2 separate regions of the Homo sapiens genome follow, and region 2 is linked to region 1. A link means that fine-mapping ties the variant in region 1 to the expression of a gene that starts in the linked region. Tissue or cell type: blood mononuclear cells. Region 1 holds a variant in brackets; the other region holds the start of a gene. All regions are shown on one strand. Distances are between the middles of the regions. Region 1 overlaps CAMSAP3 (calmodulin regulated spectrin associated protein family member 3). Region 2 holds the start of STXBP2 (syntaxin binding protein 2).

Region 1 (4,514 bases):
CAGCCCGAAACACACGCGGCCAGCGGAGCTGCGGCTGGCACCCTTGACCAGGGTGCTTACGCCACCCCACGACGTAGACAGCCTCCCCCACCTGCGCAAGTTCTCGCCGAGCCAGGTGCCCGTGCAGACGCGCTCTTCCATCCTCCTGGCGGAGGAGACGCCCCCCGAGGAGCCAGCCGCCCGGCCGGGCCTCATCGAGATCCCGCTGGGCAGCCTGGCAGATCCCGCCGCCGAGGACGAGGGAGACGGGAGCCCCGCTGGTGCTGAGGATTCCTTGGAGGAGGAGGCGTCTTCGGAGGGGGAGCCCCGGGTGGGGCTGGGGTTCTTCTACAAGGTGAGTCCCCGAGCAGGTGGCTGGAGGGTCCTGGGCCTGGGGCGGGGGCGGGTGGGGGCGGGGGGAGGTGGACAAACCCACTATTGGATGAATAGGGCTTTACTGAAGGATGGGTGGGCGGGTGGGGGATAGATGGGGAGCCAGGTATGAATGGACAGAACAGGTGTGAGTGGCTGGGTAAGGCCTCCATGGGTGGGAGAGGGGGGAAAGGGACATTTGCACGGTGGGGGGCAGGTATGTGGGGTGACAGGGGCCTCAGATGGGATTTGACCCTGTCTGTTGGGTAAGGACTTCCACAAGGGGCTGTGGGGGTGCAGTGGGGTGAGAGGTCCTCCCCCTGTGGCTTAATGAGTGAGGCCCTCGGGTATGTTTGGGGGTGAGGGGTTTCCAGTGGGGGCTGACCCAGTCATGTCCCTCCCAAACAAGGTATGGGTGGCCGGACAAGGGGGATAGATAGATGTGGGGAGGGGTGGAGAAACAGGGAGGAGTCATGGATAGACAGATGGATGAATGGCTGGTTGCATGGGTGGGTGGGTGATGGACAGATAGACGGACAGGACCAGGATCTTCAGCGCACCTCCTTGCTCATCCTCTCCTTCACCCCCTCGCCCCCAGCACGCTCCTACCACCCCTTTCCTGGCCCTGCCCTGTGTCCACTGTCTCTCCATTCCCATGGCTTTCCCAGCCGGGGACACCTAGGGTTACCTGACTGGCCTCTGCTGCCTGCCTCCATCCCGGGCCATTTTGCACTGAGTGGTCGGGGATTTTGACTGCTCCCCTTACCCTTGCTTTTAGAATGAAAGTCCTCCCCAGGGTGGCCGGGCGCAGTGGCTCATGCCTGTAATCCCAGCACTTTGGGAGGCCAAGGCAGGCGGATCATGAGGTCAGGAGATCGAGACCATCCTGGCTAACATGGTGAAACTCCGTCTCTACTAAAAATACAAAAAATTAGCTGGCGTGGTGGCGGGCGCATGTAGTCCCAGCTACTCAGGAGGCTGAGGCAGGAGAATGGCGTGAACCCAGGAGGTGGAGCTTGCAGTGGGCCTAGATCGTGCCACTGCACTCCAGCCTGGGCAACAGAGCGAGACTCCATCTCAAAAAAAAAAAAAAAAAAAAAAAAGTGAGCACAGCCCAAAGCCCTGGGGAGGACTTCCTTTTCATTTTTTTTTTTTGTTTTGTTTTCTTTTGTTTTTTGTTTTTTGAGACAGAGTCTCGCTCTGTGGCCCAGGCTGGAGTGCAGTGGCATGATCTCGGTTCACTGCAACCTCCACCTCCTGGGTTTAAGTGATTCTCTTGTCTCACCCTCCTGAGTAGCTGGGACTACAAGAGCATGCCACCACGCCCAGCTGATTTTTGCATTTTTAGTAGAGACAGGGTTTCTCCAGGCTGGTCTCGAACCCCTGACCTCAAGTGATCCACCTGCCTTGGCCTCCCAAACTGCTGGGATTACAGGTGTGAGCCACCGCGTCTGGCCTGTACTCACTTCTGACTTAGTCCTGCGCCACTGTCCTCAGCTCTGTGTCCCAGCCACACTGGCCCCCTTGTACTTCCGTGCCCCCCAGTAGGTTTGCTCCAGCCTCAGGGCCTCGGCACTAGCTGTCCCCTCTGCCTGGAACGCTCTGCTCTGTACGCCCACCTAGTTAAATCCTGATCATTCTACAGGGTACTTCCTCTGGGAAGC[C/T]TTCCTGGGTGTCTCCAGGCCAGGCCGGGGTCCTCCCGCAGTGTAGAGTGTCTGTGCCCAACACGAGCTTTTGCTGGCACTCACTGCTGTCTGCTGCTTTTGTCTTCCCCGTTGGGTTAAGCAGTGTGTGTGTGAGCGGCACCCAGTGTATCCCATCCCTGTTGTGTCCCAGTACTTAGTGTGGGGCTGTGCATACAGTAGGCACCAACTAAGTGCATTTAGAACAATGATGAAAACAAAAGCACAGGTGGGTGGCGGGCAGGCTGGGTGGAGGGAAGATGGGCCTCCAGCCATGTTGGGGGAGGGGGTGGCTGGCTGGACTCGGCGTCTGTCCCCAGGATGAAGACAAGCCTGAGGACGAGATGGCCCAAAAGCGGGCCAGCCTGCTGGAGCGGCAGCAGCGGCGAGCAGAGGAGGCGCGGCGGCGCAAGCAGTGGCAGGAGGTGGAGAAGGAACAGCGGAGGGAGGAGGCCGCGAGGTGAGGCCGGGCCTGCCCGGGACGCCCGCTCCTTGGCCTGTCTGCCACCGCGGACCCCGTGAGCGGTTCTGATGCCGATTCCCTGTGATCTGCAGGCTGGCCCAAGAGGAGGCCCCGGGCCCAGCCCCGCTTGTGTCCGCAGTCCCGATGGCGACTCCAGCCCCTGCTGCCCGGGCTCCAGCCGAGGAGGAGGTGGGCCCCCGGAAGGGGGACTTCACGCGGCAGGAGTACGAGCGCCGGGCCCAGCTGAAGCTGATGGACGACCTCGATAAGGTGCTGCGGCCCCGGGCTGCGGGGTCCGGGGGTCCAGGTCGGGGCGGGCGGAGGGCCACCCGGCCTCGCTCGGGTTGCTGTGACGACTCAGCCCTGGCACGAAGCCCAGCCCGCGGCCTGCTGGGTGAGGACCCTTGGGGGACGGGGCCTGCCCAGTGCCCTTTCCGGGGCTCACTGGGTGAGGCCCCCATGGGTAAGGGGGGAGGGGGAGGGAGATGTAAGCAGGGGTGCCGGGAGGGGGCGGGTATGTGGGGTGACAGGGGGCCTCAGGTGGGGTTGGACACTGTCTCTTGGGTAAAGACTTCCATAGGGGGCCGGGCGCGGTGGCTCACGCCTGTAATCCCAGCACTTTGGGAGGCTGAGGCGGGCGGATCACCTGAGGTCAGGAGTTTGAGACCAGCCTGGCCAACATGGTGAAAGCCCATCTCTATTAAAAATACAAAAATTAGCCGGGCATATGGCATGCCTGTAGTCCCAGCTACTTGGGAGACTGAGGCAGGAGAATCGCTTGAGCCTGGGAGGTGGAGGTTGCGGTGAGCCAAGATTGCACCACTGTACTCCAGCCTGGGCAACAGAGCGAGACTCCGTCTCAGAAATAAGACAAAAAAAAAAAAAAAAGACTTCCATAGGGATGTGGGGTGCAGTGGGATGAGGGGTCTTTCTTCTGTGGCTTCATGGATAGGAACCTTTGGGAGTATGTTTGGGGTGAGGCGTTGCCAGTAGGGGCTGACCCAGTGCTGCTCCCCACTTGCCTGCTGGGCAAAGCATCCTCCCTCATAGAGGGGTCCCCCCATAGGGGTGCTGCAGAGGGCCGAGGGGTCTTGGGCAGGACTGACTCCTCCTGTGTTCCCCCCACAGCCTGCTGGACCGGGTGTTGTGGAGGGCAGGGGCTTCTGGTGGGCACTGACCTGCAATCTCTGTCCCCAGGCTCTCGGCTGAGCAAAATCTATTCCCAGTCCACCCTGTCACTGTCCACTGTGGCCAACGAGGCCCACAATAACCTCGGGGTGAAGAGGCCCACGTCTCGGTGAGTTTAGCCCGCACAGGCGGGGTTCGTATGCCGGGTGGCTTCCCAGAGCCTGGGAGGTGTGTGGGCATCTGGGTGAACCTAGAGGGCGGTATGGCTCGAGTTTATGGATACGCCATGAAGAGATGGAGGGACGCGTGTGGGCACGTGTGCATGGGGCATAGTCTGTACCTGGCAGACAGGACTCAAGCATGTGCCTCAGTGCACTTGAGTGCCAGGTGTTCCTGTGGGAGGAGGACAGCACGGGGCACTGCATGGACTTGGGAGGGTGTGCAGTGTATACCGCCTCCTCTGCAGTGTGTGTGGCCCGCCTTTTTTTTTTTTTTTTTTTTTTTTGTTTTTTTGAGAGGGAGTCTTGCTGTGTCGCCCAGGCTGGAGTGCAGTGGCGCAATCTTGGCTCACGGCAACCTCCGCCCCCTGGGTGCAAGTGATTCTCGTGCCTCAGCCTCCTGAGTAGCTGGGGTTACCCGTGCCTGTAGAGACGGTGTTTCACCATGTTGGCCAGGCTGGCCTCGAACTCCCGACCTCAAGTGATCTGCCCGCTTTGGCCTCCCGAAGTGCTGGGATTACAGGCATGAGCCACGATGCCCAGCCGTGGCCCTTATTTTCCTTGGCCCCTCTGCACATAGGGAAGCTTCCCATCTCTGACCCCACCTCCATCCCATCCTGACCCCACCTCCATCCCATCCTTCTCCCACTGCAGGGCTCCCTCCCCGTCAGG
Region 2 (4,000 bases), 22 kb after region 1:
TAACAACAACAACAAAATCAACCGGGCACGGTGGCGTGCACCTGTAGTCCCAGCTACTTGGGTGGCCGAAGTGGAAGAATCCCTTGAGCTCAGGAAGTCGAGGCTGCAGTGAGCTATGATCGTGCCACTGCCCTCCAGCCTGAGCAACAGAGCGAGACCCGTCTCTTTACAAAACAAAAACAAACAAAAATGGGGAGGAGGGAGAAGAAGGAAGAAAGGAAGGGAAAAGGAAAGGAAAGGAAGAAATAGCTCAAACTCCTACCTACGGTTGCCAACCGTCCTGGTTTGCCTGTGACTGTCCTATTTTTAGCACTGAAAGTCCTGCATCCTGGCACTGGGATGGGTCAGTCTGACCTTGTCCTACAGAAGTCTGGCCCCTGCTGCCCCCACCCTCCAGCCTTCTTAAGCTCGGGGCTCCTCCCTTCTCTACCTGGACATGCTGTGTGGCTGCTTCTAGAATCCATTTAGGGATAATGTCAAAAGGCTGCTTCTTCAGAGAGGCCCTCGGGGGTCATCCTCAGTAAAGTCCCCTCCCACCCCTACCTTCTGTGGCACTTGTTGTCACATTAGTTTATTTCCTTTAGGGCAGCATGGATCCTTTCCTATCTCCCCCAGACCTTCGGGTCTGATTCACTCCCTATGTCCCATGTAAGTGGCAGGGGGCTTGGTACCTTCATCAACACGGCCGAGCGAAGGAACCAGCTCAGACCAGCAAGAGTCTGTTTGCACACATACCTCGCACCTTAAATCGGAGACCTCATTTTGTATGGGTGCTGCTGGGGCTGTGCCTTCCAAGCGACAGGACACACAGCAGAAGCAGCTTCTGAAATTCCGAGTGTGTGTCTGTGTTTGCAAGCATTTGAGGGCGTCACTCACCCCATGTGTGTATCAGCATGTTAATTCGATTGTTGGTCCACGAGGGTAAGCGTTGCGCCTCCCGGAAGAGGGTAAGGCTGTGACAAATGCCCCCTGGGGACAGGCTCCTGGCTTGAACCCAGCAGGCTCACTCGTCGTGGCCTTGGATTAGGGATCCCGCTAAGCCTCGGTTTCCTCGTCGGCACCGCAGTCCAGGTCGGAACATTGGGCAGGACTGAATGAAAATTATGTCCAGGTGCCTGCACACAAGAGGTCTCCAGGCCTCCTGAATCCATCAAAAGTTATCCAAGACGGCTGCTGCTGCTGCTGCTGCCTCTAAACCCTGAAGTACAGAAGGCAAGTGGGTCAAGATCCCAGGCCCAGACAGTGGCGGCCCGGTGGCATCGAGTGGGTGCCGTGTATCTTGCAGGCACAGAACCTCCCGGGGAAGATGGAGGGATTATTGCCCTGCGATCCTGCTTCGCACGCAAGCCAGGAAGTGTGTGTCTGAACTCCCATCTGTGAGCGTGTCGTCGAGGTGTGCACCTCCAGCGACTTCGTGCTCGGCAGCGCGGACGCACCTGCCCGTCCTCCCCGCCAGGGACTCAACTTCCTGGGCCTGGGCGAGAACCGACGGCGGGGAGGGGCCAGGTGCGCAGGGGGCGGGGACAGGGCCCGCGGGGCGGGGTCCACGTGGGTGACGCGCGGGGCCACGCCCCCACCTTGGGACACACCCGGAAGCGGCGGCGGCGCCCCTCGGGGAAGATGGCGCCCTCGGGGCTGAAGGCGGTGGTGGGGGAAAGTGAGTGCCTCTCCGGGGCCGGGCTCTGGCGTCCGGTGTGGGACGGGGGTCGGGGACGCACGGGCTCTGGGATCCTGGGTTTCATGGCGGCTGGGAGTTGGGGGCCGGGCTGGGCGTCCGAGCACCTGACCCTCGAGGGGGCGGGCGGGGACGGGTTCCCAGCTGGACGCCCCTGCTCTCCGGTGCCAGAACAGAACAAAATTGGGGGGCCGGACTCCGGGGACCCAAAGGGGACGGGTAGAGTGTGGCGGAGGCTGGGGCCCGGACTCCTGGGCCTCCTAGGGTGCCTGCCGGGGGAGGAGGGCACAGCTGGATGCCCACACTCTAGGATCTCTTAAGCCGGGCAAAGTTCAGGGGCTGGATTCTTGGGGCCTCCTAGGGCTCTGGTCAGCGACCCTAGGTGCTGTGAGCGCTCAGGGGACGTGTCCAGGCCCCACAGGGGTGGTGTAGGGGATGTCTTCCTCCTTGCCCCATTTCCAGGAGCGCCTTGCAGCTGGAGGACGCAGGCGTCCAGGCCTCACCGGCCCCGGTTCTTGGGGGAAGGGTGGAGGGCGCCTCTTCCTCCACCCCGGGGAGTTCCGGCCTCAGCTGCTCCTTCCGCCCTGGCCGTCTTGATAACAGTGGACATGACACAGTGGACGTGGCTGGGCGGGGCCACCCCGTTACTTCTCTCCACTCTCTCCTCTAGGCAGGGCGGTCTGTAGCTCAAACCCCTTTAATTGGGGGAGATTAGAAAAAAGTGATTCCATTTTACAGATGAGGAAACTGAGACCGGAGGTCAGTGGGATAGCCTCAGCTAGGCATGCCTCAGAGCTGGGAACCAGGGGTCCTACATTTTAGACCAGGTTGGGGGGACTGGCTGAAACCCTCACAGCAGGAATACTTGAGGTAGCAGGTGGGGAAGCCGAGAGCCTGGCGCTAGAGGCAGATAGAGCTGTAGATGATCCCGGTTCTCCTCTTTTCATTCACCTAAAACATGTTTATCGAGTGGCACCTTTTGCCCCAGCACTCTGCCACTTAGACACTCAGGATGCGTAGGTGAGTTACATGTTGCCTAAGAATCTGTTTCCCTGTCTGTAAATTGGGGGTGACCCCAGAAGCCAATTTGCAGAACTGGGGGCTAAAAATAAATGATTCCTGTGCCGTGTCTCACACCTGTAATCCCAGCACTTTGGGAGGCCGAGGCAGGAGGACTGCTTGAGGCCAAAAGTTTGAGACCAGCTTGGGCAACATAGCGAGACCCCATCTATACAGAAATAAAAATAAATTAGCTGTGGGTGGTACATGCACCTGTAGTCCCAGCTACTCGGGAGGCTGAGGCAAGAGGATCGCTGGAGCCCAGGAGTTGGAGGCCGCAGTGAGTTATGATCACACCACTGCACTTTAGCCTAGGTGACAGAGTGAGATCCTCCTCTCTTAAAAAAAAAAAAAAAGTAAATGGGAATTAAGATGGGGGTTCAGCCCCAAGGCTGAGAAGGCTTGGGGCAGTGGTGGGACCAGAGAACCAGCATTCTGACCCCTCCCCTCCCTTCCCTGCAGAAATTCTGAGCGGAGTTATTCGGAGTGTCAAGAAGGATGGGGAGTGGAAGGTAGGGGTGAGGCAGATGGCTGGGTACCCAGAGGCAGCTCATCATCAGGCCTATGGGGAAGACCCTGAATGTGGGACCCCCAAGAACTGCCTGTCCACATGGGTGGAGTTGGGTGAATGGGTTCTGGGTCCTCCCACCCAGCCAGCCCTTGAAACTGCCCCTCCCACTGCCTTGGCCCCTTCTGGGGCCAGCTGTGGCCTCTTCCGCCTGCTCCTCCATCCATCTGTCCATCCATCTGGACAGGTGCTTATCATGGATCACCCAAGCATGCGCATCTTGTCTTCCTGCTGCAAAATGTCAGATATCCTGGCTGAGGGCATCACCAGTGAGTGAACGCGTCCCCAGTGAGATGGGACCTGAGCGTGGGAACCCCTGACTGTGCCCCTCTCCCAGGGTTCAGCCCTTGAGTGTAGGATCCCCTCAAATCGTCCAGAACTCCCAAGTACGCAGCTCCCTGCACGGACAGCCCGGATCATGTGACCAAATCCATTCTTAAACCTTGCAAGCTGACTGCGGGAGCCCATGGATTGCAGGCCTCCCCTGCAGCACTCCCTGGCTGCAGCCCCTTCCTGACCGTGCAGCTCCCTCGTGGAGCCCTGTGTGGGACTCCCAGGGTGGACTCTGGATGTGGGGTCCCAAGAATGCAGAGCCTTCTATGGGTGACCCCAGGTGGTGTCCCAGTCACTTTGCCATTGAGGGATAGGTGCTGAGGGAGCCTGTCCTCTCAGAACCTCAGTCTCCCTGTCTGTAAATT

Evidence for each region. PIP is the estimated chance that this variant, and not a neighbour inherited with it, causes the effect.
Region 2: it holds the start of STXBP2, and the variant in region 1 is the best candidate, but not a certain one, in a credible set for the expression of STXBP2 in blood mononuclear cells (TOPMed, PIP 0.55).

Annotation. Positions count from the first base shown.
Region 1 is chr19:7,612,830-7,617,343 of GRCh38, forward strand. CAMSAP3 (calmodulin regulated spectrin associated protein family member 3) reads left to right here. Exons shown (of 17, transcript NM_020902.2): 11 at 1-334; 12 at 2,354-2,493; 13 at 2,589-2,890; 14 at 3,694-3,793; 15 at 4,497-4,514. Among named protein-coding and RNA genes, the nearest start is that of MIR6792, 2.4 kb to the right of the region's middle. The variant C/T (reference allele first, on the strand shown) is at 2,016.
Region 2 is chr19:7,635,530-7,639,529 of GRCh38, forward strand. STXBP2 (syntaxin binding protein 2) reads left to right here and starts at 1,581. Exons shown (of 19, transcript NM_006949.4): 1 at 1,581-1,657; 2 at 3,197-3,246; 3 at 3,490-3,571. The coding sequence starts at 1,621. It also overlaps a transcript of PCP2 not described here. RefSeq lists enhancers at 1,127-1,654, 1,655-2,183, 2,184-2,710 and a silencer at 1,399-1,688.